Linked DNA regions of Homo sapiens: regions 1, 2, 3, 5, 6 and 7 are each linked to region 4. The links come from fine-mapping of genetic effects on gene expression. A gene starts in region 4. Each other region holds a variant in brackets. All regions are shown on one strand. Distances are from middle to middle. Region 1 overlaps TEX22 (testis expressed 22). Region 2 overlaps TEDC1 (tubulin epsilon and delta complex 1). Region 3 overlaps TEX22 (testis expressed 22). Region 4 holds the start of CRIP2 (cysteine rich protein 2). Region 5 overlaps PACS2 (phosphofurin acidic cluster sorting protein 2). Region 6 overlaps MTA1 (metastasis associated 1). Region 7 overlaps PACS2 (phosphofurin acidic cluster sorting protein 2).

Region 1 (4,062 bases), 65 kb before region 4:
AGGCTGGAGTGCAGTGGCGTGATCTTGGCTCACTGCAACCTCCGCCTCCGGGGTTCAAGTGGTTCTCCTGCCTCAGCCTCCCAAGTAGCTGGGACTACAGGCACCCACCACCACACCCAGCTAATTTTTGTGTTTTGTTTGTTTGTTTTTTGTTTTTGAGACAGAGTCTCGCTCCATCACCCAGACTGGAGTGCAATGGCATGATCTTGGCTCACTGCAACCTCTGCCTCCTGGGTTCAAGCAATTCTCCTGCCTTAGCTTCCCAAGTAGTTGGGATTACAGGTGCGTGCCACCATGCTGGGCTAATTTTTGTATTTTTAGTAGAAACAGGGTTTCGCCATGCTGACCAGGCTGGTCTCAAACTCCTGACCTCTGGTGATCTGCCCGCCTCGGCCTCCCAAAATGCTGGGATTACAGGCGTGAGCCACCGTGCCCGGCCGCACTGCCTCCTTTTCATTCCTCTGTCTTGCATTCTGTCCATGCCCCACCGCAGAGACGAAGGGTGTAGCGCCCCTTCCCCATCCTCCCACCAGCATTCTGTCTACTCAGCAGAAACCCAATTCCACTGTTAGCTTTACAGTGACCATGTGGCATCGTGACCGTGGGATGGCCGTGTTGCCTTTGTGCTGTTTTCCCTGGAGGAAATCATTGTGTTCCCCCCTCCTCCCCCTCCCCCTCCTCCTGCTCCTCCTCCTCCTCCTCCCTCTTCTACGAACTGATTATTCTTTCCTAAACCTTCCAACAAATCTAGGACTCTCCTCTCACAGACCCCTGTACATTGGGTCGTCTGGAGCTGTGTTTTCTCCTTGGCAGTGGCCTTCCTGGAGCCCTGGACTGCCAGCAACCAGCCCAGCTGGCAGGGCCACTGAGTAGCCTTCCCCACTCCCTCTCCCCTCCCCCTACAATCCGCCTGCCTCCTGTCTACAGGACCCCTTGTTTCCTGGGCCCCAGCTTGTTCTCCTTGGTTTATCCTTTGTTTTGGTGGAGTACATCTAGCAGCTTCCTCCAAAAGGGTTCAGAGGATGTGAAAGTTTTTGAGACTCTAAAGATATGAAAATATCTTTATTCTGCCTGTATGCTTGAATGACACCTTGGTTGGGTGAGATACTAGGTGGGAAATAATTTTCTTTCAGGATTTTAAGGCTTTGTCCATCACCTTCTAGCTTGCAGCGCTGCTGTGTGGTGGTGCCCTAGACTATTAAGACTTCTTCTTCTTCTTTTTTTTTTTTTTTTTGAGACAGAGTCTTGCACTGTCACCCAGGCTGGAGTGCAGTGGTGCAATCCTAGCTCACTGTGGCCTTGAACTCCTGGGGAGTTCAAGGGGATGGAGCGATCCTCCCTCCTCAGCCTCCTGAAGTGCTTGGATTATAGCTACTGTGCCCAGCCAGGATTTTCTTACATTTTCTGTTTCTTTCTCCCTTCCTTTCTTTCTTTCATTCATTCTTTCTTTCGTTCTTTTTCTCTCTTTCTCCTTCCTTCCTTCTTTTTCTTTCTCTCTCTCTTTTTTTTTTTTCCAGAGTCTTACTCTGTCACCCAGGCTGGAGTGCAGTGGCAAAATCACAGTTCACTGCAGCCTCAGCCTCCTGGGCTCAAGCAATCTCTGCCTCAGCCTCCCCAGTAGCAAGGACTACAGGCATGTGCCACTGAACTTGGCTAATTTTTTAATTTTTCTTTTGTAGAGATGGGGTCTCACAGGCTGGTTTAGAATTCCTGGCCTCAAGCGATCCTCCTGCCTTGGGCTCCCAAACTGCTGGGATTGCAGATGTGAACCATGGCGCCTAGCCTCCTTACCTTTTTTGTTTGTTTGTTTGAGACGGAGTTTTGCTCTTGTTGCCCAGGCTGAAGTACAATGGTGTGATCTCGGCTCAGTGCAACCTCCACCTCCCGGATTCAAGCGATTCTCCTGCCTCAGCCTCTTGAGTAGCTGGGATTACAGGCATGTGCCACCACGCCTGGCTAATTTTGTATTTTTAGTAGAGATGGGGTTTTTCCACGTTGGTCAGGCTAGTCTCGAACTCCTGACCTCAGGTGATCTACTCGCCTCGGCCTCCCAAAATGCTGGGATTACAGGCATGAGCCACCACACCCGGCCAGCCTTTTTACTTTTTAAGGCTTAATAATATTCCATTTTCTGGATCTGCCACATTTTCTTTATCCATTGATCCATTGTGGAAACCTGGATTCCTTCCACATTTTCGCTATTGTGAATAATGACCACTGCTGTGTTGGAGTGCGCACATCTGTTTGCCTTCCTGCCTTCAACTCTTTTGGGTACATACCCCAAAGCGGAATTGCTGGATCCCATGCAATTCTGATTTTAATGTTTTGAGGAATGAGAATTCACTTCGGGTTTGCATGAATCCCACTCTTAGCATGGCACTGCCTTCTCTCCCCTCTCCCCTTCCCCCTGGTGAGGGAGGTGGAGGATGGTGAAC[C/T]TCAGGCTGAGCAGAGTCTGGAGGAACCGTCTCCTGCAGCCCACGTGGGAAGTTCCTTCTTGGGGGATAGAGGTCGTGCTGGGGACCTCACCTGCTTCTGGCCTTTCCCTGTGGCCCTCCCACAGCTTCTCCAGCTGGTGGTCCCTGCCCTCCAGTCTCCTGTACCCTGCCAGGGGCCCTCCTCCACTGGCGCTGGTCTTTTGTCTATGGATTCATGATCTTTATTTTCTCCCGAACTCTCTTTATGATCATTTCAGAGGGGTCTGGGGAGAAGGGCAGTCTGGAGCTGGCCTTAGTCCTGCCTTTCCTGAGGCACGCATCAGTGCTCGAGCTCCGGGGGTTCTCCTGCCGGTCAAGCCGGGGGCCGGCCGTGAGGACTAAGCGGTCCACAGGCAGCCCTGCTGTACATGAAGCGGGGCAGGTACTGGGTTGGGCGGTGTCCTGGCACAGATGACTGTGCAAAGCCACAGAGGGCCACACTGCCTGAGGCCCCGCGCCGGGAGCTGGCGCTGGAGCAGCGGGAGGCTGAGCAGACGGCGCTTTAGAAAGCGCCCGGGGGCGAGCTCTGAGGGTCGGCGGGTGCTGGGTGGGAGCGGCGAAGGGGAGCTGGCGCCGAGGCCCTCGCCGACCCGCTGCCCTGTCCCCCAGGTGTGCGAGCCGCCGGAACGCAGGCGCCCGGGCCGCCGCTGGAGCGTCAGCATCGACGAGCGCCGGCGGCTGGCCACGCTGGGCGGCCGGGAGAGGCCGGGCGCCGCCGGGACCCAGCTGCACTGCAGGGTGCGCGGGGGGCGGGTCCTCCCCGCCCCGTCCCCGCCCCGCCCCGCCCCTCCGCCTCGCCTCCCTCGACTCAGTCCCACTGGGCCCTTTACCCCGGCGCTCCCGGGCCCCGCCGTTGTCCCCTTCCCGCCCCTCGAGGCTCCCTGACCACCCTCGCCCGCAGGACGTCGTGCAGATGGTAGCCCAGCTGGTGTCGGAGGACGTGGACAAGGACGTGCTCCTTCCCCACCCGCTGAGGTCCACCGAGTCCACCAACGCCTTCCAGGCCTTCCTGGCGCGCAGTGCGCCTTTCTGGCATAATGCGACTTTCGAGGCCTCGAGGTCACCCCCTTCCTAAGAGCCCCATTCAGCCCATTGTCTGTCTTCCAGTGCCTTTCCTTGGGGGCCCACGGTGGGGGCAGCCTCTGCGCCTTCTTTGTGCCCCACCAGGGGGTCACCACCCACCCATGTTAGGAAAACAGGCCAGGCAGGACCTGGCTCCGGACAGCCTGCAGCTGCTGAGGCCTTGGAGACCGGGCTAGGGGCTATGGGAGGCCATCTAGGGGAGGGGAACACTGCCCCGGGTCAGTCTGAGAGGGCCCTGGCAAGGCCTGGGTAGCAGGAGCTTGCCCTCGGGGCCGCTGGGAGGAGGCCTGGGGTACCTGGGCCTGCCTGAGGTGCACTGGTGTCCTGGGAAGCCCCAGTGGCAGGCGCTGCCTGGAGACTCAGCTCCTTGGCTGGCCTGGTCTGGGGAACTGGGTATCTGCCTGCACCAGGCTGTGAGATGGGCCAGGCAGAGTTCTCCAGGGGGCGGGGTCTCACATTGGGTCCTGCCTCTGAAGACCCAGAAGGGCACACGGGACCCCAGGGG
Region 2 (4,062 bases), 20 kb after region 4:
GTGTCCCGTGCTGCAGGCCGCCAGCTGCCAGTCCCTGCAGCCCGTCCCGTGAGGCCTGGCACAGGCTTTTGGCTGGATGTGGGCCTTCCTGCCCTGGCTTACCCAAAGCCTGAGCCCGTGGTTCCCGGTGGTCCTTGTAGGGGGCAGGGCTGGGCAGGGAGCCCAGTGGGGTGGGCAATGGTGGGCAGAAACGGGTGTCAGAGAGCTCACAGAATTTGCCTTTCTGTTCCCAAAAGTTACCAGTGGACTTCCAGCTCTGTGAACAGTGGGATGGGGTCTGTGCCATGAAAGCCACTCCCTCCTGGGCACTGGAGGGGGAGGAAGACAGCTCCTGTTGCCACCACATCCTGGTGGGGGCTGACTTGCGGGGTGGACAGCTCCTGTGGGGTCCTGAAGGTGGCAGGGGCTGGCTCAGGGGCACAGGTACCCAGTGGTGTGTCCACTGTGAGGCCAGCGCTGACAGGTGGGTCTGTGGCAGCGGCGGGCTCCCACCAGCGCGGGACTCCTTGGAGACCCCCCCATCCCACCCTTGCAGAGGGTCTGTTGCTCAGCTGGCCTTTCCAGGGACCTCTCACCCCGTCGGGCCTGGCCTTGGCACCAGCTGCTCCGCTTACTTATGTGCCTACCTGTGACCCTCTGTGCCACCTTCCAGCCTCCCTTTTTTGGGGAGCCTTCCCCATTTCCCTAGATCCAAGCAGTCGTTCATGTCCCCACTGTGAGCCTGGCTGAACTGCTGTGCCTGTCCAGAGGCTGTTCCTCCCCCGATGCTGCTGGGGAAGCCAGGGCACCCCACTCCAATCTTGCTGCTGCTTGGAAGCTGGGCGGGGTGGGGAGGCCATCAGTGAAATTGCCTGGCGCCCCCTTGCAGGAGACCCCAGCGGTGCTGATGGTTGTTCTGCACCCAGCCCAGCCCCGCCAACCTCAGGCAAGGAGTGGCTTTCTCTGAGCCCTCTTTCCTCATCTGGGAGGTGGGCTCTGATGGCCGACCTCCCTGGACTCATGGAGACTCAGCGTTGGGGGAGGTGCTTGACTGCCACTCAGCCTGGGGTCTGCACTACCTGTTTTAGATCCACCTGTACACACGCGGCTGCCACAGCGACCAGAGCCTTAGCCATCTGTCTGTCACTGAAGCAGAGATGCTCAGGGACCCAGAGGGAGGCCAGCAGGTGAGGGCGGGCAAGCTGCTGCGGGGGGGTGGGGGTGGGCTGGGGGGCACAGCAGGGGGACTGCCCAGGGTGGGAGGGGCCTGGGGGCGGGGCAGCTCTTGGGCCTCCAGCGGTGGGTGTCTCTGCATGTCTGCCACTGATCATTGCCAGCCTGGGTGACAGACAGCTTCTCTGGGCCTCTCCTAGCCTCATGGGCCACTCACCCTTCCCTTCCACAAATCAAGACGTGGCACGGGTGGGGGCCCAGGACGCAGGAGCCTGGGCTGGGCAGGCAGCTGGCTAAGGGCAGGCTGTTGGAATAAAGGAACACAGATCTCAGGTGTGAGCTGGTGGTGTTGGCATCTCAAGCAGGTCTCACTTGGTGTGTCAGGGGGCACCTAGGGGTGTGGGGGGCCAGCCCACACTGGGTGAAGGGTTGGGCACAGGGCTGACTGTGGGAGGGGACAACTGCCCTTCAGAACCCAAGGCCAGGCCCACATGGGGTGTGCTGGACCGAGCCTCCCAAGCTGGAGCCAGCTCCATAGGCCCTGGAGACTTGCAGTCCCGTTCTGCTTGCTACACCCGGACCACCCGGGGGCACGGCGCTTTCTAGGCAGGCCTGCCCCCGGCGACCGGGGCTCTGTGGTCCCAGGCAGATCCTGAGCCCTGGATAGCATAGACCTGGAGGAAAACCTGCCTCTGAGCCCCAGGTGGCTGTGTGACCTTGGGGAGACAGCATCCTCCTCTGACTGGGGCTGCTGGAGCACTGACCCAAGTGTTAGGGTTGACCTAGCCCCAGGCATCTTCCCCAGGGATGGCCGCTTCCTCGCACCCTGCTGCTGGCCTTCCATCCTCATCCTTCTTTCTGGGGGTCTGCCCGCCCGTCATCACTGGCTTCTTCCTCTTGGCTGGCTTGGTTTCAGGGGATAGGGCAGGGCTGGCTGCCACTCTTTTAATTTATTTTATTTATTTATTTGAGACAGAGTCTCGCTGTGTCGCCCAGGCTGGCATGCAGTGGCACAGTCTTGGCTCACTGCAACCTCCGTCTCCTGGGTTCAAGCGATTTTCCTATCTCAACCTCCTGAGTAGCTGGGACTACAGGCACCTGTCACCACGTC[C/T]GGCTAATTTTTTTGTATTTTTAGTAGAGACGGGGTTTTGCCACGTTGGCCAGGCTGGTCTCGAACTCCTGACCTCTGGTGATCCACCTGCCTCGACCTCCCAGAGTGCTGGGATTACAGGCGTGAGCCAACCACTTGGGCTGGGCTCTGTACTGTCCTGAGTGACGGGCTGGCACTGTCCTGCTCCAGGTGCATATGGCCGGGCAGGAGGGCAGAGGCTCAGGGCTGGTGTGACCTCTTCTTCCAGACCCAGTCCCCCTTCTCTGCCTCTTCCCTCTCCAATCCCAGAGACTTGGCCCCTGTACCTCATCCCAGGCCTGCCCAGGGGGACCTAGGGGTCAGAGGCGGATGGCCTGGCTCCTGGCCCCTAGTCTTGTGTCTGCTGGGGCTTCCTGCTCGTAGCAAGGGCCTGTGGGTTCCAGCTCTGCAGCCCAAGCCTGGGGGATTGCATGCCTCACTCATGGGCTTACAGGGCCCAACCCCTGACGCCTGCCTGGCCCCTGGTGCCAGCTGGACCTGTGTCCCTGGCTGAAGCCGGGCTGGCGCCCACCCAGTCAGCCTGCACTGGCGTTGGCAGTGCTGAGGCAGCATCCGGGCGTCCTGGTCTGCCCTTGTCCCTACCTGCCTTGTAGAGGCGGCTCAGCGAAGCCCAGGCTTCTGGCCCCTGGGACCCCTGGGTTGGGGCAGAGGAGAGGCTGCCCTGGCCCCAGGCTGCTCCTGCCCAGTGCCTCTGTGGGACCACCCTCTGTGGTGGGCTGGGGGGGCCTGGAAGTGAGGCCCCGCCCTCTCCCCGAAGCTGTGTGCGGCACTGGCCAGGTGGACTGGGGCCATGGCTGGCTTCCTTCCAAGGTTTCTGGAGCGGGAGCTGCCCAAAACCTGGACCTGGCCTACCCAAAGTGCCTGCACTCCTTCTGCACTCCTGGGATGGGTCCCAGAACCTTCTGGAATGATCTGTGGCTGGTATGTGAGCAGCCAGGTCTGCTGCCGGGTGACTGGGCAGCACCCTTGGATCCTGGTGGGGCCTCAGCCTGCAGCCTGCTCTCCCCTTTTAGGGCGGTAAGTCGGGGAGGCTGGCAGGGAAGTGGAGACCGCAGGACTTGGGGGTGGGTGGGAGGGGGTGGCGAGGGGGTGTGTTTGCTCCTCCTCTCCTGCCTGCTCCCACCCCTGGCCCTTACCTTCTTGGGAACTGTGGTGATTGCCTTCTGTCAGGTGTGTTGAAGCGGCCGTACCCATGGTGGAGGCCTTTGCTCTTCTTGTGGCGTGCTGGGGTGGGCAGGTGGGCTGCAGCCCCGGCACCAGCCTGCTCCAGCTCCCACACCGCCCACAGACCTCCCTGTCCTCATATTCTCTGACCGCAGGCCTGCCTGCCTCTGCTCTGCTCCGCCCCAGAGGGGCTGGGTTGGACCTGGTGTTCAAGGCCATTCCTATCTGCCCCCCAGCCCACTGCTGGAGCCCCAGGCCCCTGCAGCCTGCTCCACACTCTGGGTTCCCGGGGGAAGCAGGGGTAGAGTGGGGCAGGATTCAGGTGTAGAGGGCCTGTCCCCAGCAGGGGTCCCCTTGCCCCGGGCCCAGGGTCACTGGTACAGATAGCCCATGAGCGAACCTGGGAGGCCTTCCGTGTGTGGGCAGAGCAGCTGCTGTGTCCTGGCCATTCTCCAGCCGCCTGTCTGTGGGCACTGTGGGCAGGTACCTTTGTGCAGGGCCATGGGGCAGGCAGGGCGGGGTCTCCTGGCCCTGCCTGACCCTTCACTTGGGAATGTCAAGTGTGGCTCAGCTCTGCCTTCTCTGCCACCTGGGTC
Region 3 (4,062 bases), 71 kb before region 4:
GGAGACCATCCTGGCAAATGGGATGAAACCCCGTCTCTATTAAAAATACAAAAACTAGCTGGGCATGGTGGTGGGTGCCTATAATCCCAGCTACTTGGGAGGCTGAGGCAGGAGAATTGCTTGAACCTGGGAGTTGGAGGATGCAGTGAGCCGAGATTCCGCCACCACACTCCAGCCTGGGCGACAGAGGGAGACTGTCTCAAAAAAGTAAATAAACAGTATTCTGGAAACCGAAGCCCTTATAGTAAATCAAGAAAATGAGATGTGTAAATATCTGAAAAGATGACAATCACTATTTGCATCTAATATGTTACCTACTTGGAAAATCCAATTTAAGAAACATGAGTACAGATAAAAGAGGGAGTTTGGATATGTGATCACCATTCACAACTTTTCAACACAGTAAAAAGCAGAAAATGGAATGGAAGCAAAGGATACTATTCAACTTAGCAACAGGAACTATGAAGTTCTTAGAAATAAACCTGTTATTGGCCGGGTGTGGTGGCTCACGCCTGTAATCCCAGCACTTTGGGAGGCTGGGGCGGGCAGATCACAAGGTCTGGAGATCAAGACCATCCTGGCTAACACGGTGAAACCCCGTCTCTACTAAAAAATACAAAAAAATTAGCCGGGCGTGGTGGCGGGCGCCTGTAGTCCCAGCTACTCGGGAGGCTGAGGCAGGAGAATGGCGTGAACCCGGGAGGCGGAGCTTGCAGTGAGACGAGATTGCGCTACTGCACTCCAGCCTGGGCGACAGAGCGAGACTCCGTCTCAAAAAAAAAAAAAAAAAAAGAGAAACCTGTTGTTCAATTCCTTCATGAAGAACACTTTACAATGTTACTGAATAGCATGTAGAGCTCCTGATGGAGATGGTTATCATATTGGATGGGCAGATTTCATATGTGTGTTTTTGAGACAGGGTCTTGCTCTGTCACCAGGCTGGAGTACAGTGGTATGATCACAGTGTTACTGGAAAAGGGATCTCCATCTGGACCCCAAGAGAGGGTTTTTGGATCTCATGCAGGAAGGAGTTTGAGGCGAGCTGCAGAGTGCAGTGAGAAGAGATCATTTATTGAAAGCCGCTCCACTGCAGAGCAGGGCATCCTCAACAAGCAAGCAGAGGAACAGACCTACTTTGTTTTTAGTTTTTCTTATATCGAGGTCTTATCTATGTAAAGACCAAGCTGTGCCTACGTGTGGGTGGGCTGACAGCATAACAATTTATTATTCTATTGATTAAAAGGAAACTATTTTACATTTTAGTGTGCAAGTACATTAAAGCATCACTATAATTATCTTGAAAGCATATATTATTGTGGGTGTTGGGACATCTGAACTTCCTTTTCTATGAGTTTGTCCTTGTAGGCATTACCAAGCTGCTTCCTTAGCTGTAAACATCTTAGGTCCGTGGTTGTGACCTGTAAGGAATGTGCTCTATTAGTCTCAAGGTGGAGTTGAACATAAAATGATGTTATCCTGGCTCTCCTAGACTCCTGCTTCTCTAATCACAGCTCACTACAGCCTGGACCTCCTGGACTCCAGCTATCCTCCCACCTCAGCCTCCCAAGTAGCTGGGACCACAGTGGCATGCCACCATGCCTAGCTAATTTTAAAAAAATTTTTGCAGAGATGGGGTCTTACTGTGTTGCCTGGTGTGGTCTTGAACTGGGCTCATGTGATCCTCCAGCTTTGGGGTCCCAAAGTGTTAGGATTATAGGCATGAGCCATTGCGCCCAGCCAGATTTAACGTTTTAAACATGCCAAGCTTCCCAAAAACAATTCAGTGTT[T/C]TTTAAAAAAACAGACTTCATGAATCTTGAAAATTTCATTTTAAATGTACATAGTGATTCTGGAAATGTATTACTAGTTTACTTTTTAAAAAAAATTACAGACAGGGTCTCACTATGTTACCTAGGCTGGTCTCTAACTCCTGGCCTTCCTAAGAGCTGGGATCACAGGCATGAGCCACCATACCCAGCCTTTGGCAATGTATTGGTTATCCATTGCTGCATGACAAATTTCCCCAGAGCTTAGCAACTTAAAACAGTAAGTATTTTTATCTTAGTTTCCGTAGGTCAGAAATTTGGGAGCTGCTTAGCTGGTGGCTTTGGTTTGAGATCTCTCAGGAGCTTATAGTTGAGATAGCAGTCAACACTTCAGTCATCTCAAAGCTTGAGGAAGGCTGGAGACTGCTTCCACGGCAGCTCACTCACATGACTGGCGAGTCCATGATAGGGGCTGGCAGGAGGCTCAGCTCCTTACCACGTGGATCTCCCCATAGGACAGCTTCAGTATCCTCAGTATGGGGGCTGGCTTCCCCCAGAGTGAGTGAGTGGAGAGAGTGAGCTGAAAGCTGCAATGACTTCCATGACTTAACCTTGGAAGTCACACTCCTCTCTTTCTACAGTATCCGTTTTGGATACACTGGTCATCCTATTTAGTGTGAGAGGGGACGACACAGGGGCATGGATACCAGGAGGTGAGGATCATTGGATGCCATCTTGGAGGACAGCTCTCACAGGCAGTCATTTAGTCTATACGCTTTAAGAAATTATGTACTGAGAAGCATAATAGTGAAATTGTAGAATGCCAGCGACAAAAACCTCAGAAGCAATTTGAGTGGGAAGACAGAACCTTCAAAGCAGCCACGGGAGCTCGTCACAGTAGAGCAGTAGCATGCCTGTGCTCAGGGGAAGCCATGCTCAGCCTGGAATAGCAGGCCCAGCAAAAATGGATTATACAAAGGGCTAAGTAAAGTTTTTAAATGATAAAAAAGAGAATTTGCCCCCAGCACACTCTCACCTCAGTTCTGAAGAAATGATCTCAAAGCATCATGAAAGTGATGAAAGGTCTGAAATGGATAAAGCATGAGAGGAAGTAGGAAGTGTCTGAGTAAACTGAAACTGACAGTCACTGGATGTCACTCATGCACAGAAAAGCAAGGATACAATCAATATATGTACCTGCAATGGCATAAATGTCAAGATGGTGCCTGTGAGTGGAACTAAAGTGTTCTCAGTTCCTCTGAGAAGAGGAGGGGGGTGGGCCATGGTGGCTCACACCTGTAATCCCAGCACTTTGGGAGGCCTAGGTGGGAGGATTGCTTGAGCTCAGCCTGGCAACATGGCAAAACCCCATCTCTATAAAAAAATCACAAAAAGTTAGCCAGGCATGGTGGCATGTACCTGTAGTGCCAGCTACGTGGAGGCTGAGGCAGGAGGATCACTTGTGTCTGTGAGGCGGAAACTGCAGTGAGCTGAGATTGCACCACCACACTCCAGCCTGGGCAACAGAGCCAGACCTTGACTCAAAAAAAAAAAAAGATCGAGTTGCTTGTCATCTTTGGAGTTAGATGAGTTTGCCTGCCCTCACATATTACAGCAGAAGAACAGAAGGAGATACGATGGCAGATAGAATCGCCGGTACGTCATTTAATTCAGTCAATGAAAACGGACTAAGTGTTCCAGTTAAAAGACAGACATTGTCAGAGTGGGTTGAAAACAACCAAATTCAGCGGTAGGGTTGTGAACGTGTGCAGCGGTAAGCACAGGAATATTCCAACCGCAGGGTGAAGATGGACACCAAACGGCCGTGCATCAGTTCACATTGCATTTTTCTGTCAAACAGCAAACTTACCTCGGATTTGGGAATGTGGTTGTGTGGACGCCTGTTGCGTGCAGCCGTGAGCGTGAGTCTCATAGACCTGTTCCTGAGTGAAAGAGGCAAAAAGGTGACAAAATTATTCATGCCATGTGGCTTTGTTCAGAGTTCAAAAGCATGCAGAAGTAAACAAGATATTGCCAATATTCATTAAAGTATAATTTGAAAAAATAAAGATGTTTTAAAATGTTTACTTGGAAAAGGAACCATACAACAATTTTGGAAAATAAGAGCAAGGCCTGGCTTGTCCGCACCAGCTCCAACAACTAAAACTGTGTGGCCCTGTGGCAGAAGGTGGCAAAGACACCACTGCCTGGACAAGTAACCCGGAAACCAACCTGTGCATAAATGTGGGGATTTAATTTATGTTGAGCATGGCATTTCAGAGTAGTGAGAAACAGACC
Region 4 (4,062 bases):
CCTCCTCACCATCTTCTGCCTTGGCTGGCACAGGTCCCAAGTGCAGAGGGGGAGCTGGTCAGGCTGGTCAGTCGGGCGGGGGGGCGGGGGGCATGTTTCTGGCCTGCTGTCACCATGGAAATGGCAGTGGCTGCAGGGTGTGTGTGCAAGGGAGGAGGGTGCTGCCACAGAGAGCCCAGCCAGGACCACCATGAAAGCCAGGAGCACCGAGGGCCTCTGGTTGGCTCACAAACATGCCTGGTGCACCAGGCAGAGGGAACAGGTAGGTCTCCGTGTCCAGCCCACAGCCTCCAAGACACAGGGGGAAGGGTGTCCAGAGTCAGCTGCCCCCATAGGGCCTGATCACTGGGCTTCTGGGATCTGCCTGTCTCCCAGGCCGACGCTCAGCTGGGGCCAGAAGGCTCAGAGAAGGGCCCATGGGGACAGAGCACCAGGAAGCCCGTGGGTGCGGAGGTTCCCCACCTGGGGCCAGGCTCTACGGGGCTCTAGGGCGGAGGCACTGTGGTGAGGCGTGGTCAGGCACGCCCTGGTTGGGAGGAGGCCAGAGTGGGGGTGTGGGGGTGCGGTGACTGGCATGACCCCTCAATCTCCCGCCTGACCCCTCGAGGTCAGGCCCTGGGCCCCCAGGCACGCAGCTGGTCCTGGGCGGTGCGGGAGAAGGGACTGGAGTGTCAGCCCCAGCCCGGGGCACAGAGGGCACGCCCACTCCTTCCCCTCCTTCCCTTCCTAACTCCTCACCGCCTCCCCGGCCGCCCCCTGGGTGGAAGTGCTTGGGGTGGACGCCTTAAGCGCGGATCCCTCGGCGCTGGTGCCCGCCGCCCCTTCCCTGCCTGGGAGGCAGACGCAGACCTCCCCACACCCCCTACCAGCAGCTTCTCGAGCTGTTTCTGGAGGTGGCGGCGCCTTCCTTCCTGAGCCCTGCCCTCCACCCAAGGAGCCTTCAGCACCACAGACAGTGTTGGGGCGGGGCGCGGGCGGGGGCGGAGCGGGACATGGAGACCCGGACAGGGCTGGGGGCCGTGCCCGCCGGGAATCTGACTCCGCTCCCGCGGCGCGGCTGTTGCTATGGAAACCGAGCAACAAAGGGAAGCGGGACAGGCGCCGCGCGCGGCGGGGTGGGGGTGGGGTTCTCCCGGAGCCTGCGACCCCTTCCCGCGGCGGAGCGCAGCCTGGGCGCCCAGGGCCGGGAGTGTTGGACCCCTAGGCCCAAGTCACTAGGGCTCCCCGAGAGCCGAGGGCCAGGCTCCCCGCACCCTGCCCGCCGCCCCGGGGACGGCCCGGCCAGGCGGCCCCGACGTCGCCATGGAAACAGCCGGGGCGCGGGCGGCGCCGCGGTCGCCCGGGCGGGCCCCTGTAGACGCCACCTCCGGCGCGAGGGGCCCGGGGGCGCCAGGCCTGGCCCGGCTGCCCCGCACCCGCCACCCCCGGCAGGTGCGCCCCGCCCCCGCGGCGCCCCCAGGCGGCCCCCAGCCCGGGGGACGGGTTATCGAGGCCCCGCCCCGGCCGCGGAGCCAATGGGCGCGCGGACAGCCGGGCAGGCGGGGCTGGGCGCGGGCGGCGGCGGCCCGGAGGAGAACGGGCGGAGGGCGCGGGCCGACCGGGCGCACCGACCATGGCCTCCAAATGCCCCAAGTGCGACAAGACCGTGTACTTCGGTGAGTGCGTGCCCGCTCCCGGCCCGCTCGGTGCATCCCGCCGCCCTTCGCGGCCAGTCCCGCGCCGCAGAGCCGCGGCGTAACTCGGGGTGCGCCCGGCCCCGGCCCCGGACCGAGGATGCGCGTCCCGGAGGCTGGCTGGCCGCGCTGCCCAAGCGGCTAAAGCCAAAGGGTGGGGCTGCGCGAAAGCGGGGGCGGTCACGCCCGAACCCCGAAGCGGCTTGTGGGGGCGGGGCAGGGACCACCCGGGCGGGGCTTGTGGTGCCCCGGGATGAGGCCAGTGTTTGGGGGAGCGCTCGGGGATCCGCGGACGCATCCCGGTTCCTCGGACGGCGCCGGGCGGGGCGGGGCAGGGCGTGGCTGTACGCCCCGGGTGCGTCCCGCGCGCTCCCGTGGGCCTGGGCCCTTTCTCCTGGACCCCCTACACCCGCTTCCCCCGGGAACAAGTGGCCGGGAACAGTGACCCCCAGCTCCCACTCCGGGCTCCGCTGAGCTGGGCTGGGCCAGGTTTGGACTCTGTCGGGATTCAGTCCAAGCGGGGGCGACCTTGGCCTCTGCCTCCTGCTTGTCCCGACGCATTCCCTTGGCGCCAGTTCCCCCAGGAGTTTCACACGGGGGTAGGGTGGGGGCGGGTGTGACACGCGAGTTCCCGCGAACGTGAGAGGGACCTTGTGCTCAAGCAGCCCAGGTGTCCAGGATCCCTGCCTCCTCAAGGTCAGAACAGCCCTGGACAGGATGCAGGTGGTGGCGGGAAGAGGGATGTCTCGCAAGGCGGCCCTCGGTCTAGCCCCTCCGGCAGGCGCGCTCCCCCCGTCTGGGCTTACTCACTCTCTGGGCCTGGGTGCGCCCTTCCTACCCCCTTCCTCCTGGCTGATTCGCTGCCCAGCTTTCTCCAGGGTGGTAAGGTCCCTGCCCACCTACCCACCAGCTGCTGCACGAAGGGGGGCAGACTTAGTGAAGCAGAGAGGAGGGCCGGGACCAACAGGGCGCCTGCCCTGGTCGCCCCATACCCAGAATGCGGCCAGGCTGCAGGGAAGGCCGCCACTGGGCTTCCCCGGCTCACAGGCTGGAGGGGGTTGAGGGGAGGTTGTATTTTGCCCGTCCCAGAGGGGAGGGACCGGATTTGGCCTGGAGTGCTTCTGGCGTGGCTGGGAGCCGAGGGGCTTCCGGCTGCCTCTCCTGGAGCCCGCTCAGCCCTCAGTCTCTGTCCCAGCGAGGGCTGTCTCTGTAAGGCTTAGGGTGGGAGACGGTCCCCAGGGCCCTTCTGCAGTCCAACTGCCCATGACTTTACCCCAGGCCGGGCCAGGCCAGCCTGGGGCTCTCCAGGGTCTCGGCCAACAGTCCTGTGGACAGCCCGGAAAGGCCTGCCTGCCTGGCCCGCCCAGCCTCTCAGCGGAAAACAAAGGCGCTTCAGACCCGGCTGGCTTCTGTCCTGCCTGGGAGGCACTGTGAGGGCGAGGGTCCAGAATCCTGCCCACCCTCACACCAGGCTGCCCCCGCAGCTCATACCTGAGTAGAACCCAGGCTGGGATGTCGGAGCACATTGAGGAGGCCACCCCAGAGCCCATGCAGCCAGGGTGGGCAGCTGGTTTTCTTCTGAGCCATTAGACCCAATCGATTCTGTGTTCCCAACTCGGACCCGTAATGTGTGGCCATTGACCCACCCAGTGGGTCTGAGGGCCAGTTCCCTGCCCCCACTTGGCCCACGTCCCAGAGCTGGCCAGAGCACAGTGCTGGCAGCCCTGGGCTGCAGCTGCCACGGCCGATAGCCACCGAGACTTCCTTGCTGCTGCTGGGACACGCCTGCCCACCGTGCAGCCAGCCCCTGCCTGCCCTGGTGTGTCCCAGCTTCCTTGAGTGGAGTGGTTCTGGTCAGAGGGCTCTAAGCTGGTGCAGCCTTGTGGTTGGGCTGGTGTCCTGGAGGCTGGCCCTGGCCATGCCCAGAGGGTTGTACCAGGGCCACGGAGAGCCAGTATTCACAGCCCTCTACCTAGTAGGCCACCTGGGGGATCCCATCTCACTGCCAGGAGCAGCACCCTTGGGCCTCTCAGAGTGGGCTTCGCCCTAGCCAGATGCCCCTCCCCGATATCTGCCAGACAAAGGGGGCTGGGCCACTTGCTGAGAAAGGGAGCTGGGAGAGCCACTGGTCCTCGGCCACCTGAGGGGCTTGGCCAGATTCTGCCGGGCAGGGTGGGCCCAGCCTGCATGCTCCCTCCCCCCAGGGCCTGCAGCTTGTCCCCTTCCCTTCAGAATTCCGGCTCTGCTGGGCCCTTCCTGCCCCTCCCCACCTCTTCCTGCCTGGCTCCCTAGGGAGGCCCCTGCTTCCATCCACTGGGAAGCAGTCCAGTAGCCCCAGTGTGGGGGTGGGAGGCAGTGGCAGAGGGTCCCGGACCCTCAGCAGCTGCCC
Region 5 (4,062 bases), 99 kb before region 4:
CTCTTAGAAGAAAATGGGCCAATCTTATGACCTTGGGTTAGGCAGGGGTTTCTTAGATGTGACATCAAAAGCATAAGCAACAAAAGGTAAGTTTTTCTGGACCACAGCAACATTTTACAGTTTTGTGCACCAAATAGTGCCATCAAGAAAACCGAACAGTAGAACAGAAGAATGTTTTTTGCAAATCATATATGTGATAAGGGGCTTGAATCCAGAACACATAAAGAATGCTTATAACTGAAAAATAAAGACACAGACAGTCTAGTTAAAAGCTGAACTGTCCATTGCTTTGAGAACGATGCAGCCTCAGGTGCCACGGAGCTGGGGCCCGCCCACTCCTGCCCTGACTCGCTGCTGTCCACTTGTACTGAGAAGTCGACCAGGAAGCCGCCTCGTGGCCACGGCTTTTAAAGACACCGGGAGGACACCTCTGGAGCCCGTGGAGTGATTCCTTGAATTAGAATTACCCTGACCAGCTGCAATGTAAAATCCCTGGAGGTGTGTGCTGGCTTATGAGGGGCACGGAGAAAAACAATCTCAAAGTGAAAGAACCAGTTCTGATGCCTGCCAAGTCTTTGAGAATCACTAAGAGAAACACACCTTGTGGTGAAGGTTCTCAGACACAGGATCACTTCCAGACGAGAATCCATAAGCAGCTCGTGGACCTGCCTGGTCCATCCTGGATTGTGAGGCTGATTGCTCTGTTGGAATTGAGCTGCGAGCCGCGGTTGACATCACCATTGCAGATGCTTAAGCCAAGTGTTTTAATAAAGTGATTATCACTTGTCAGAACCAGGCACAGTGGCTCACACCTGTAATCCCAGCACTTTGGGGGCTGACGTGGGAGGATCACTTGAGCCCAGGAGGTCGAGGCTGCAGTGAACTATGATTGTGCCACTGCGCTCTACCCTGGGCAACAAAGCAAGACCCTTTCTCAAAGACAAAGAACAGTGAATTGTCCAATTAAAAAATGGGCAGGGGGCTGGGTGTGGTCGCTCACACCTGTAATCCCAGAACTTTGGGAGGCCGAGGCGGGTGGATTACAAGGTCAAGAGATCAAGACCATCCTGGCTAACACGGTGAAACCCCATCTCTACTAAAAATACAAAAAGTAGCCGGGCGTGGTGATGGGCGCCTGTAGTCCCAGCTACTCAGGAGGCTGAGGCCGGAGAATGGCGTGAACCCGGGAGGCGGAGCTTGCAGTGAGCCGAGATCGTGCCACTGCACTCCAGCCTGGGCAACAGACAGTGCGAGACTCCATCTCAAAAAAAAAAAAAAAAAAAAAATAGGGATCTTTCTAAATAGATTTCTTCAAAGACACACAAGTAGCCAATAAGTACACGATCATCATGATCATTATCACTGGTCATTAGGGAAATGTAAACCAAACCACAATGAGACACTACTTGATCCCCACTAGGATGGCTGGAACAAATGAAATGCAACAGGGTGAGGTGTAACAGCAGGAACCCACACCCTGCTGGGGGAATGTAAGGTGGTGTGGCAGCCACAGGAAGCAGTTGCCAGACACCCAGCACCCCTGTTCTTCAGTGTTGACTTCAGGGAGGTGAACACACACATGCATGGACCCACTCAGACGTTCACAGCAGCTTCATCTGTGATGGTCATAATGCCCGTCAGCTGGTGATCTGTTAGACTGGGGTCCACCCACTCAGTGGCGCACTGCAGAACCATCAGAGGAAGTGAATAAAGGAAAGAGGTTTAGTTGACTCACAGTTCAGCATGGCTGGGGAGGCCTCAGGAAGCTGCCAATCATGGCAGAAGGGGAAGCAGGCACCTTCTTTATGGGGCAGCAGGTCGGAGTGGGTGCCTGCAGGGGAAATACAAGATGCTTATAAAACCATCAGATCTCTTAAGATGTGCTCATTATCATGAGAACAGCGTGGAGGAAACCACCCCCAGGATCCAGTTACCTCCACTTGTCCTGCCCTTGGCACGTGGGGCTTATGGGGATTACAATTCAAGGTGAGACTTGGGTGGGGACACAGTGGAACATGAAGTGTGCCACGCTGGGTGGATGACGCCCTCCTCCCCCCGCCACCGAGAGCTGCAGGCCACATGATTCCTTTTGGGTAGCACTCGGGAAAGGGCAGAATGTACAGGAACAGAGTGAGATTCGCAGGGCCTGGGGCTGAGGGAGGGGACGCACTAGAGGAAGGCAAAGGGGAGCCTCCTGGGTGTGGGGAGCACTTTCTGTCTTGGTTTTGGTGGTGGCTGCACAGTGGCCCACACCCGTCAGAGCTCACCTGCCTGCACCCAGGCCCTCCGTGCACCCTGGCAGCCCAGATGACTGCACCAGCCCAGGGGAGGTGGAGGAATGCCACACGCACCGGTACCTGGGGACCGGGGGTCCTCGGTGATCATCCCGAGCTCCAAGACAGAAGCTGGACTACAGC[C/T]GTGCTGAGTGGAGGGGTTTGGTGGCTGGGTGCCCGCCTCCTATTGCTCCTGCAGACTCTGGGGTCTCGGGCGCCCCCAGTGGGGCAATGTGGGCTGCTGCAGGGAACTCACGCGTGCCTGGCACCCGTGCAGGTCCTGGACTCGGAGCAGGACCCTGCGGAGCACATCCCCGAGGCAGAGGAGGACCTGGACCTCCTGTATGACACCCTGGACATGGAGCACCCCAGCGACAGCGGCCCCGACATGGAGGATGACGACAGCGTCCTCAGCACCCCCAAGCCGAAGCTGCGGTGAGCCCTACAGGGCGGGGCGGGGAGGAACAGCCATTTCAGATGCCCCGGCCACTCTGCGACCACTCTGGCAGACCCATGTCCAGCCCTGGAGACGGGGTGGGCAGGGCCAGCTGCCTCGAAGCCTGGGAAGGCTCTGGTGGCTGGAAGGAGGGGTGTGCGGCTGCCTGGCAGGCCCAGGCTACGGCTGCACTGAGCCAGGCAGCTTTCCTTTCATAGGCCAGGGGGTGCAAGCTCTGGGCTGGGGAGGACCGAGAGGGGTCCCCCAGGGTGCTGGCTGGGCTGGGTGTGGCACCCCGTTGTAGGGGATCCGTCTCTGGGGGATGCCCTGGGAACTGCAGGGGACCTCCGTTCACTCAGGTGGGGAGTAGAGCTCCCATGCTGGGTGCCCCTCCCTGAGGAGGAGGAGGCAGAGGCAGGTGGGGAGGGGGAGGGCAGGTGTCTCTGTGGCTGGATGGGAGGAGGGGCTGGCTGGGGTGGCCTGGCCTGGGCAGGAGGAGAGGATGCAGGGCAGGCAGCTCTGTGCATGGGTCTGGGTATGGAGGCCTCGGTCAGCTGGGGGCAGGAAGGCAAGCACACCAGGCAGAAGGCAGGTGCCAGCCTCTGGGCAGCTGCTGAGGAGCCAGAGGCCCCAGTCAGAGTCAGGAAGCTTGGTAGACCTTTTGCTCTCACACTTTTTTAACCTAAACAACACGAAGAAGGTGGCCTTGCTGCATGTTGGAGGCGCGGCCCCAGTTAGCCCTGCAGCCACGCAGCGGCCTCCCACCTCACCTGCCCCGGCCTGGCAGCCCCAGCCCAACTTGCTGCTCCTTCAGTTGCCAGCAGCCACCATAACAGGTGACCGCGGATGTGGCCACCAGAAACAGCCTCTGTTCCTCCTGTTCTGGAGATTGCCATCCCGAGGCTGTGGCCTCATTCTTGGCCAGGGTCTCGCTGGGCTCGGGTGGAGGTATTGGTGGCTGCCCTGACTGGGGCTCCGAGGTCATGCAGTGCAGGCCCAGCGTGGTGGTTGGTGGAGTTCAGCTCCGTGTGGCTGCGGGATGGGGGTCTGGCTGCCCTGCCGCCTGGTGGCCGTTGGTCATTCTTGCCTTCTGGCAACCGTCCTCGTACCCTGGCCCAGGGTCCCTCCTCCACCTTCGGAACCAGCAAGGCCCAGTGAAGTCCCCCTCACACTTTGGGCCTCCCTGGCCTTCCTGCCTCATCTCTTCTGCCTTCAGCCGGAGAAAGTTTTCTGTCTTTAACGGCTCACGTGATTCCATAGGAGACATCTTTGTGGCCCAGATCCTCTCCCATCTTAAACTCCGTGGTGTTGGCTGTATCTGCAGAGCCCTGGCCAGCTAGCATTCATAGTTTG
Region 6 (4,062 bases), 35 kb before region 4:
GATGACACTGCCCCGCCTGAGCCCCGAGTCCCTGGGCCACGGGAGGTGGGACTGGGTCTGGCCTTTGGTGCCACAGGTGGCACTCTCTCTGTTGCTGTTTGCAGACTACGTCTACTTTGAGAACTCCTCCAGCAACCCATACCTGATCCGGAGAATCGAGGAGCTCAACAAGGTACTGGGGGGCCCTGGTGTTGCTGCAGGGGGGTAGTGGGTGGGGGCTACGCCAGCTCCTGCCCTGTGGGTGGCCAGTGTGGGTGGCCCCCTTTCGGGGCTGATCTTGGACTGGCCACTGCACAGGCCCTTCAGTGACTCCGTCCACTGTCACCTGCACCGTGGCTCCTCCTTGGAGATACTGAGTGAGGGGCCTGGTGGCCTCATGCAGGACCCAGCGCAGCTGCCCTGAGCTGCCTGCCCACTCTACACTTGGTCTGTGGGTGCTGGGTCCCCTGAAGATGCCAGTGTCCCCTGGGGAGCCCGAGCGGAATGGTGTGATTCTGAAACCAACCAAAGGCTGCAGAAAGCCATACTCGGTGCCCCTGCCCTGCCCGAACCCTGGCAGCCAGCCCTGCAGGGCTGTGAGCTCTGCCCCCACCCCTGAGGTGTCTGCATGGCTGGAAGCACCCTCCCTGGTCACTCAGGCAGCCCTGCAGGGCTGTGAGCTCTGCCCCCAACCCTGAGGTGTCTGCGTGGCTGGAAGCGCCCTCCCTGGTCACTCAGGCAGCCCTTGCTCCCACCTGGTTTGTGTCTGCCATGAGTCCTTGGCAGTTGCTTGCTGTTTGGTCGGGGGACGTGGTTGTGCCCATGCATTGAGCCTGGCAGCACCAGATCCTTCCTGGGGGGTGGTGACACATGGGCCCCTCAGCCCCAGCCACTCCTGGCCTCCACTGCCTCGGCACAGCCTCCGTCCCATCAGCTCGGGAGACAGAGCCGTAGATGGCCATGGAGGTGTAGGGCGCCCGCACACCCTGGGAGCCTTCTCGCTGTCCTCAGGGGTGGTGGGTGGGTCCCCCAGCGTCCCTTCTCCTCCTCCTGGTTGGAGACTTTCTAAGGGTGTTGAGGGAGGGCAGGTTGTCCCCACCAGTGGACACATGGTTCCAGCAGAGAGTGGGGTGGGGTGCTGGGTGCTTCACAGACCTCTCTGTGCCTGCCTGCAGGGCTCCTGAGCCCCCGATCCCCTGGAGCCAGTGGCCCGATGGCTGCCTTCTCCTAGGAGCCCTGCCCACTCGGCAGGCCTGGGGCACTCGGGCCCTTGGTGTTCCATCTGGATGCTGCAGGCTCACCTGGGAGAAGCTGCCTTCCTGGACCTCAGGCTTGGTGGCAGCGGTGACGTGGGGTTCTTGGGATCAGAGGGGGCAGCGGGGGGAAGGTTAGCGCGCCACCTCTGACGTAGCCATGCTGGGCTCCGGGCTTCCCTGGCTGCGCTTGTCGAGGGCCATTCCCTGCGGTATCTGCCACCACCTGGGGCCGAGGAGCATGGGGTGCGACATCTGCTCCCCCGCAGCTTCCTGGGAGGTCTGAGGGCCAGGCCTGTTTGTTGGAGGCACAGGCAATGACCTGGGTGTCTTCTGAGTCTGCCTCACTGCCCCTGCTGGGCAGGGCCTGCCCGCCTGCAGAGCAAGGCCACTTGGGTACTGCCGGAATGGGGCGCCACTCCTGTGGCTGAGCCTCCTGAGTGCGGGGCAGCACTTTACGCATCCCAGCATGTGGACTGTAGGGAAACAGGTGCAGAGGGAGGTTCCTCAGCTGACGCTGAACCATGGCTGGGGGAGGTCCTGTGTCCCTCCTGGTCTGTGTAGTGGAGGGGCGGCCGGCAGATGGCACTGCTGGCCCCACACAGCCAGCTGGCAGGCAACCCGGGGCGGGAGGCTGCAGTGCCTCCGTGGGCGCCTGGC[C/T]GAGTGCCACTGCTGGGAGGTGCCACTGTCAGGAAGGTTCCCTCGTGCTGCTTCCGGCTTCCATGTGCAGACAGTAGATTGCAGGCGTGTGCAGGCAGGGGGCTGGCTTCCAGCCCTTGGGCGATGTTCAGTTACACATGTAGCATTGCACACGCTCAGAGGCGTCCCCTTCGTCCTAGGACTCCCTCCTCCTCAGGGCCAGGGCCACATGGCGTGGGCACTTGCCTGTCTCTGGGCGGGACACCAGCCTGTGAGGGGCACGACTACTCTCTTGGACTGTTCAGGCAGGGCAGCCGAGCCAGACGCTCACCATGTGGAAAAGAACCCGCAGGCCTGCGACAGAGTGCGGCCAGTGCCCTCCACGCCAAGGAGCTCCAGGCGGGGCTTCCAGGTGGGCGCAGCTGGTTGAGTACAGACCTCCCCTCTGTTCCCTGGACTGAACGCCCCCTCAAATAACAAGAAAGTGGTGCTGGGGCTCTGCACCCACAGGGCAAGGAAGGTGGGAGAGGCGGTGCCACTGGGAGGTATGGGCACAGCTTGGAAGGCAGCCAGGCAGACTGGGCAACCTGAGAGGCCCTGGCCCTGGCCTGGGTCAGGATGGGGAGAACAGGAACCATGGTGACATGTGGCTGGCAGCGCGGAAGGCCTGTCTGGGGGGTCAGGTGGTCCCACAGAGCCCTTCCCTGGGCTGGAGCAGTGGACTCAGAGGACCCAGATTTGGGGCACCAGACCCAGGCCAGCACAGTTCGTGCGGGGGCTGGAAGTGGGGATCGCCTGGCTCATGGCCTGTCCCCTGGTGGGCCCCCCCGCCCCTCTTGCCTCCTTGGCTCCCAGGACCCTAGCGGCCAGACTTCTAAAGCCCACAGACCCAGCTGCTGGCATCGGGGACCCAGCAGAATGCCCGCTACCCCAGCACCCATGGGTGCAGCCCATGCAGCGAGCTGCCCAGCACCGGGGAGGCTCCCAGGGATGAAAAGCCGCAAGGCGTATGGGGCGGGGCGGGGGGGCTTTTAACAGGAAGGTCAGCCAGCACATGTAAAAATTGAACTCAGAGGCTGGACGCAGGGGCTCACGCCTGGAATCCCAGCACTTTGAGAGGCCGAGGCGGGCGGATCACAAGATCAGGAGATCGAGACCATCCTGGCTAATACGGTGAAACTCCGTCTCTACTAAAAATACAAAAAATTAGCCGGGCGTGGTGGCGGGCGCCTGTGATCCCAGCTACTCGGGAGGCTGAGGCAGGAGAATGGCGTGAACCCGGGAGGTGGAGCTTGCAGTGAGCCGAGATCCCGCCACTACACTCCAGCCTGGGCGACAGAGCGAGACTCTGTCTCAAAAAAATAAAAAAGTAAAAAAGGAACTCAGAGGAAGGGCCAGTGCAGGGAACAGAAGGAAACTAAAGCAAAACAAAGCCCGTGAATGTTCTCTGAGAAATGGATGGGATCCATCCTGGGATGTGGTCAGATGAGAGGAAAGCTCTTGACACTTGGGTTAGGAGAAGTAGCAAATGAAATGAAAGGATCAGGTGATAAAGTTGAGGATACCGCACAGAAGATGGGGCAAAAACACAAAGAAACTAGGAGAGAAAAAAATCAGACATCAGTCCATTGGTCCAACGTCCAGTTAATAGCAGAGAAGGAGCGAGCAAAGCAATAAAGAGGGGCCCCTTCAAGGTGTATTTAAAATTTTAGAACACGGGAGAAGAAATGTGTTTAGAGAAAAAGTGGGTCACACACGAAGCACCGGAGTCAAAACCCACTTTGCCTTTCGGCAGCCGCGTTCAGGTGTGGAGGCTCCACGCCCAGCCAAGCTCCATCTCCCGGAAGGCAGATGAGTGAGGTTTCCTGACTGAGGCCTTGGAGTGCACTCCTCCGCGCCTTTCCAACACGAGGGAGGCGCAGGTTCCTCCCGCCCAGGAAGATGCGGCCCCTGGTGCAGGCAGCAAGCAGGGTGGACCCCAGCTCTGGGAGGGGCCTCGCAGGCGCCCTGATATGAGCCCTTTCTCTTTGGGAGCTCTGCTGCCGAGCACTTTAGGGAAGAATCTGTGATGATTCCATGAAAAACTAGGCAAGTGGAGAAAAAAGACGATTGTTAATCTCAGGAAGCAAAGGTGTTCGAAGGAAGAGAAGAAAGAATGGCCTAGTGTGGCCTCACCGCCTTTACCTGTGTG
Region 7 (4,062 bases), 81 kb before region 4:
TCCGGTCCCTCCAGGTCAGCAGGCTGCCCAGCAGCGGCGAGGCTGCAGCCACGCCCACCATGTCCATGACCGTGGTCACCAAGGAGAAGAACAAGAAGGGTGAGGTGGGGCAGGCTATAAGGCCACACGGCGCAGAAGGGCGGCTCTGTGGGAGAGGGCGGCTCGCAGTCAACAGGGATGACAGCCCCCGGGCTGGCCTCGGGCAGCCCACATGCGCAGGCAGGGGCGGGTGGGGTGAGGGAGCCTGAATCCTGAGGGCAGTGAGGGTCAGGTGCTTCTGACCAGAGCCTCAGGCGGAGGCCAGCTGGGTGGGCAGGAGAGCAGCTGTCCTCAGTCACCGTGGAAGGCAGGTTTCCTAGGTGAGCAGTGCCATGACCAGCTGAGCCCCCAGTGCCTCCCCCACACGTACCCCTGGCCCTGGCCCCAGCCCCGAAGGAGCAGCAAGATGACAGCAGGGCCTCTTTTCTCCTCCCAGTGATGTTTCTGCCCAAGAAAGCGAAGGACAAGGACGTGGAGTCTAAGAGCCAGTGCATTGAGGGCATCAGCCGGCTCATCTGCACTGCCAGGCAGCAGCAGAACATGCTGCGGGGTGAGCACCACCGGCCCCGGGGTCTGTAGAGTGGGACGTAGGTGAGAGCACAGCAAGGCTGCTTTGGAGCCCAGCCTAGGAGCTGCGGGTGTCTCGCTGTGACACGCACATTCCACGATTCAAGGTGCAAGCACATTCGATGAAGCCCTCAGTGAGGCTGACAACCTTCCAAATGCTGAGAAAGAATTTTTTTTCAACCCTTTTTGCTTTTTAAAAATAATGACTTGTTTCGTTTTTCTTGTTTGTTTTTTGTTTTGGTTTTTTTTTTTTTGAGACAGAGTTTTGCTCTTGTTACCCAGGCTGGAGTGCAATGGTGTGATCTCAGCTCACTGCAACTTCCATCTCTCAGGTTCAAGCGATTCTCCTGCCTGAGCCTCCCAAGTAGCTGGGATTACAGGCGCGTGCCACCACGCCCGGCTAATTTTTTGTATTTTTAGTAGAGATGGGGTTTTACCGTGTTGGCCAGGCTGGTCTCAAACTCCTGACCTCAGGTGATCTGCCTGCCTCGGCCTCCCAAAGTGCTGGGATTATGGGCGCGAGCCACCGCACCTGGCCTAAAAATAATGGCTTGTAGTTTAAAAGTGTTGGCTGAGCGCAGAGGCTGAGGCAGGAGAATGGCGTGAACCCGGGTGGCGGAGCTTGCAGTGAGCCGAGATTGCGCCACTGCACTCCAGCCTGGGTGACAGAGCAAGACTCCGCCTCAAAAAAAAAAAAAAAAAAAGGGGTTTTGGAGAAGATACTCTGCAAGTAACTGTTTCAGAAACGGAGCTCTGGGAGGCTTTCCTCTTTTTGAGCACGGGTCAGATGACCTCCAGGTCGACGTGGCCCTGTCTCCCCACAGGGGTCTCTGTTTTAAGGGGGCTCCCACTGTCTTCTTCCCACACCTGTGCAGGTGGAAGTGGATGTGGACGAGCAGCGCCTGGCGGAAGGTGGTGGGGTCTGCTCCTTCCACCTGCAGGCAGCCCTGGGGGAAATGCTGCCCTCCCCACCCCCCAGGGCTCTGAGTGTGGAGGGCAGGGGCAGGAATGGCGTCCCTCAGGAGCCAGCATGGCCCTGGAGCCCCCGAGTCCCTGAGGAAAGTGTTGATGCCCTCCAGCATGGGGCTCCTTCTCATCCTGTACGCCCGGCTGCCACCCAGCCTGGTGGGCCAGGCAGGCAGGTGGATAGGGTGGGCAGGCCGGGCAGGGGGGCAGGCGGTCAGGCAGCCCTCTCCCACAGTCCTCATCGACGGCGTGGAGTGCAGCGACGTCAAGTTCTTCCAGCTGGCCGCGCAGTGGTCCTCGCACGTGAAGCACTTCCCCATCTGCATCTTCGGACACTCCAAGGCCACCTTCTAGCCCCACCCACCAGGGGGCCCACCTCCTGCCCCATGCTGTGAGGGGCCCAGCTGCATTTCTGTTAACATTTCAGTTTACTACAGAGACAGACGCTTAAAACACAAAGAGAAACAGTCTTAAGTATGAATGTGCTCACAACGTGGAAACTAACGGGGGAGCTCCTGCCAGGAGCCGAATAACTGCTCTGCTTATTAACCCGAACGTTCGGCCCGGGGCTGGGAAGCCAGAAGGACGATGCTGAGCCATGGATCGCGGAAGGCGTCCTCTGGCCTCAGGAGCCACCCAGAGCCTCACAGGCTGAGTTCTTGCCTCTGTGTCCTGTCCTTCCTGGAAGTCAGGACTCTGCTTCCTCAGGGAGCCCGGGGAAGGCGGAGCTCAGTGGCCACAGGCCGAGGGCCATGGGGCCGCTCAGTCC[C/T]GTTGGGGTTGTCCTGAGTTGAGCCTGGGGGGGCCGTCCTGCCCGCCTAAGAGATGCCCCCAGCACCGCACACTCGTGGTTCCCAATAAACTCCTGCCTGCGGCGGAGGTTTTATAGCAGCAGATATTTTTAATGCTTTTCAATACATGTTCTAATGTAGCTGCCAAACATGTTGCTCTTCTGAAGTCCCCCTGGGGCTGGGCAGAGCCAGCAGAGCCTGCCCCCACTTCCCCAGCCCCTGCCCCACCCCGCCTCACACCTTCCCCACTCTCAGGCTGTTCTTGAAACACCATGAGGCTTCTGCGTGTAGTCCCTGCCCCAAACTTAGCAAGCACAGGGGCCTCCACAGCCCAGGTGGCCCCAGAAAATGTTCCAGAGCCCAGCTTGGTACATAGTGAGATGCTGCTGGGGTTGGCCTGAGGTGGGGGCCACTTCCTCCACCCCAGTGGGTATGTCTGAGGTCAGCCATGGGGATATCTGGGTTGAGATTCAGGTTTTGGTGAATATGGGGCAGGCGTCCAGATGTGTTTGTGTCACCTGCTGCAACGCTGTAGCCAATGAAGATTCCAGCGGGATGGCCTGACCAGCGGGGCCGGCACTTTGGAGCCGTGGGTGCAGCCAGGTACCCCGTGCAGGGCCTGGGAGGCTCTCCAGGCCACAGTCCTCAGAGCGTGTTGGGTCCCATGTTGTGTGTGGGTTCCATGCCCTCCACACAGCAGGAGAGGGCTTCCCTGACCACACCTGCCCCCTCAGTCCTGCTTCTCCCCAGTAAGCCTGCACTGTGGGGTCTCCATAGGAGGAGCTGGGGAAGCTGGGGCCCTCCCAGGGGTCCTGATCGACCCTGGGGGCTCTTGGCCTGGTTTCGTAAGATGGAGCACTGCAAAAGGCCATGCTCAGAAAGCAAACGCAGGGCAGGGTGGGCCTCGAGCCGGGGCTGGAGGGGTCTCCACCCTTGCTGGCCTGAGAGATGGCCCACATTTCTTACTTGTGACCGCCCTGCTCTTCCTGGCCGCCCCCCCCAGGTGGCTGAACAGGGTGATTTTGTTGTGGTGAGGGGCCAGGATGTGGCCTGGTGTGCAGCCTCAGCTCCCTGGGTTCAGGCCTCAGAGGTAGCCTGTGTGCAGGAGGCAGAGCCCCAGCCCCTCCCAGCCAGAGCCCCTCCACACCAGGGACTCCTCCTTCACCTGGGACCAGGAGCCTGGGGCACACCCCAGGGTGGGGGAGAGGGTAGGAAGGTCTCCCATTGAATCCTGGCTTCAGGCTCTGCCCCGAGAAGTGTCTGCGGTGAGGGTGTGAGCCCCGGGCTGATGGCCTCTGACCCCGGCAACAGGTGGGACCCTGACTGACTCGTTCAGCTGCCCCCAAGCTGGGCTGCAGAGCATCTGTTTTTCTGCTCTCCAGTTTCTTTTCTTTTTTTTTTTTTTTTTTTTTGAGATGGAGTCTTGCTCTGTTGCCCAGGCTGGAGTGCAGTGGCATGATCTCAGCTCACTGCAGCCTCCGTCTCCCAGGTTCAAGCAGTTCTCCTGCCTCAGCCTCCCGAGTAGCTGGGATTACAGGCGTGTGCCACCACACCTGGCTATTTTTTTTGTATTTTTAGTAGAGATGGGGTTTTGCCATGTTGGCCAGGCTGGTCTTGAACTCCTGACCTCAAGTGATCCACCCGCCTCGGCCTCCCAAAGTGCTGGGATTACAGGCGTGAGTCACCGCGTCCTGCCTGCTCT

Evidence for each region. PIP is the estimated chance that this variant, and not a neighbour inherited with it, causes the effect.
Region 1: its variant is fine-mapped to the expression of CRIP2 in whole blood (INTERVAL, PIP 0.99).
Region 2: its variant is fine-mapped to the expression of CRIP2 in whole blood (TOPMed, PIP above 0.99).
Region 3: its variant is fine-mapped to the expression of CRIP2 in whole blood (TOPMed, PIP above 0.99).
Region 5: its variant is fine-mapped to the expression of CRIP2 in whole blood (INTERVAL, PIP 0.98).
Region 6: its variant is fine-mapped to the expression of CRIP2 in whole blood (TOPMed, PIP above 0.99).
Region 7: its variant is fine-mapped to the expression of CRIP2 in whole blood (TOPMed, PIP 0.97).

Annotation. Positions count from the first base shown.
Region 1 is chr14:105,408,285-105,412,346 of GRCh38, forward strand. TEX22 (testis expressed 22) reads left to right here. Exons shown (of 4, transcript NM_001195082.2): 3 at 3,084-3,212; 4 at 3,376-4,062. The coding sequence ends at 3,549. Among named protein-coding and RNA genes, the nearest start is that of MTA1-DT, 9.4 kb to the right of the region's middle. RefSeq lists silencers at 2,957-3,016, 3,117-3,246 and enhancers at 3,318-3,821, 3,822-4,062. The variant C/T (reference allele first, on the strand shown) is at 2,436.
Region 2 is chr14:105,492,768-105,496,829 of GRCh38, forward strand. It overlaps TEDC1 (tubulin epsilon and delta complex 1), which reads left to right. Exons shown (of 9, transcript NM_001367178.1): 5 at 1,068-1,166; 6 at 3,113-3,319. Among named protein-coding and RNA genes, the nearest start is that of TEDC1, 3.6 kb to the left of the region's middle. The variant C/T (reference allele first, on the strand shown) is at 2,264.
Region 3 is chr14:105,401,983-105,406,044 of GRCh38, forward strand. All of the region lies in intron 2 of TEX22 (testis expressed 22), which reads left to right. Among named protein-coding and RNA genes, the nearest start is that of TEX22, 5.5 kb to the left of the region's middle. The variant T/C (reference allele first, on the strand shown) is at 1,789.
Region 4 is chr14:105,473,251-105,477,312 of GRCh38, forward strand. It overlaps CRIP2 (cysteine rich protein 2), which reads left to right and starts at 1,571. Exons shown (of 8, transcript NM_001312.4): 1 at 1,571-1,655. The coding sequence starts at 1,613. RefSeq lists an enhancer at 13-545 and silencers at 574-623, 634-723, 814-963, 1,234-1,303, 1,484-1,593.
Region 5 is chr14:105,374,218-105,378,279 of GRCh38, forward strand. PACS2 (phosphofurin acidic cluster sorting protein 2) reads left to right here. Exons shown (of 25, transcript NM_001100913.3): 9 at 2,551-2,708. It also overlaps the pseudogene RPS20P33. Among named protein-coding and RNA genes, the nearest start is that of TEX22, 22 kb to the right of the region's middle. The variant C/T (reference allele first, on the strand shown) is at 2,418.
Region 6 is chr14:105,438,568-105,442,629 of GRCh38, forward strand. It overlaps MTA1 (metastasis associated 1), which reads left to right. Exons shown (of 21, transcript NM_004689.4): 2 at 105-172. Among named protein-coding and RNA genes, the nearest start is that of MTA1, 21 kb to the left of the region's middle. The variant C/T (reference allele first, on the strand shown) is at 1,893.
Region 7 is chr14:105,392,747-105,396,808 of GRCh38, forward strand. It overlaps PACS2 (phosphofurin acidic cluster sorting protein 2), which reads left to right. Exons shown (of 25, transcript NM_001100913.3): 23 at 1-99; 24 at 476-589; 25 at 1,808-4,062. The coding sequence ends at 1,926. Among named protein-coding and RNA genes, the nearest start is that of TEX22, 3.8 kb to the right of the region's middle. The variant C/T (reference allele first, on the strand shown) is at 2,342.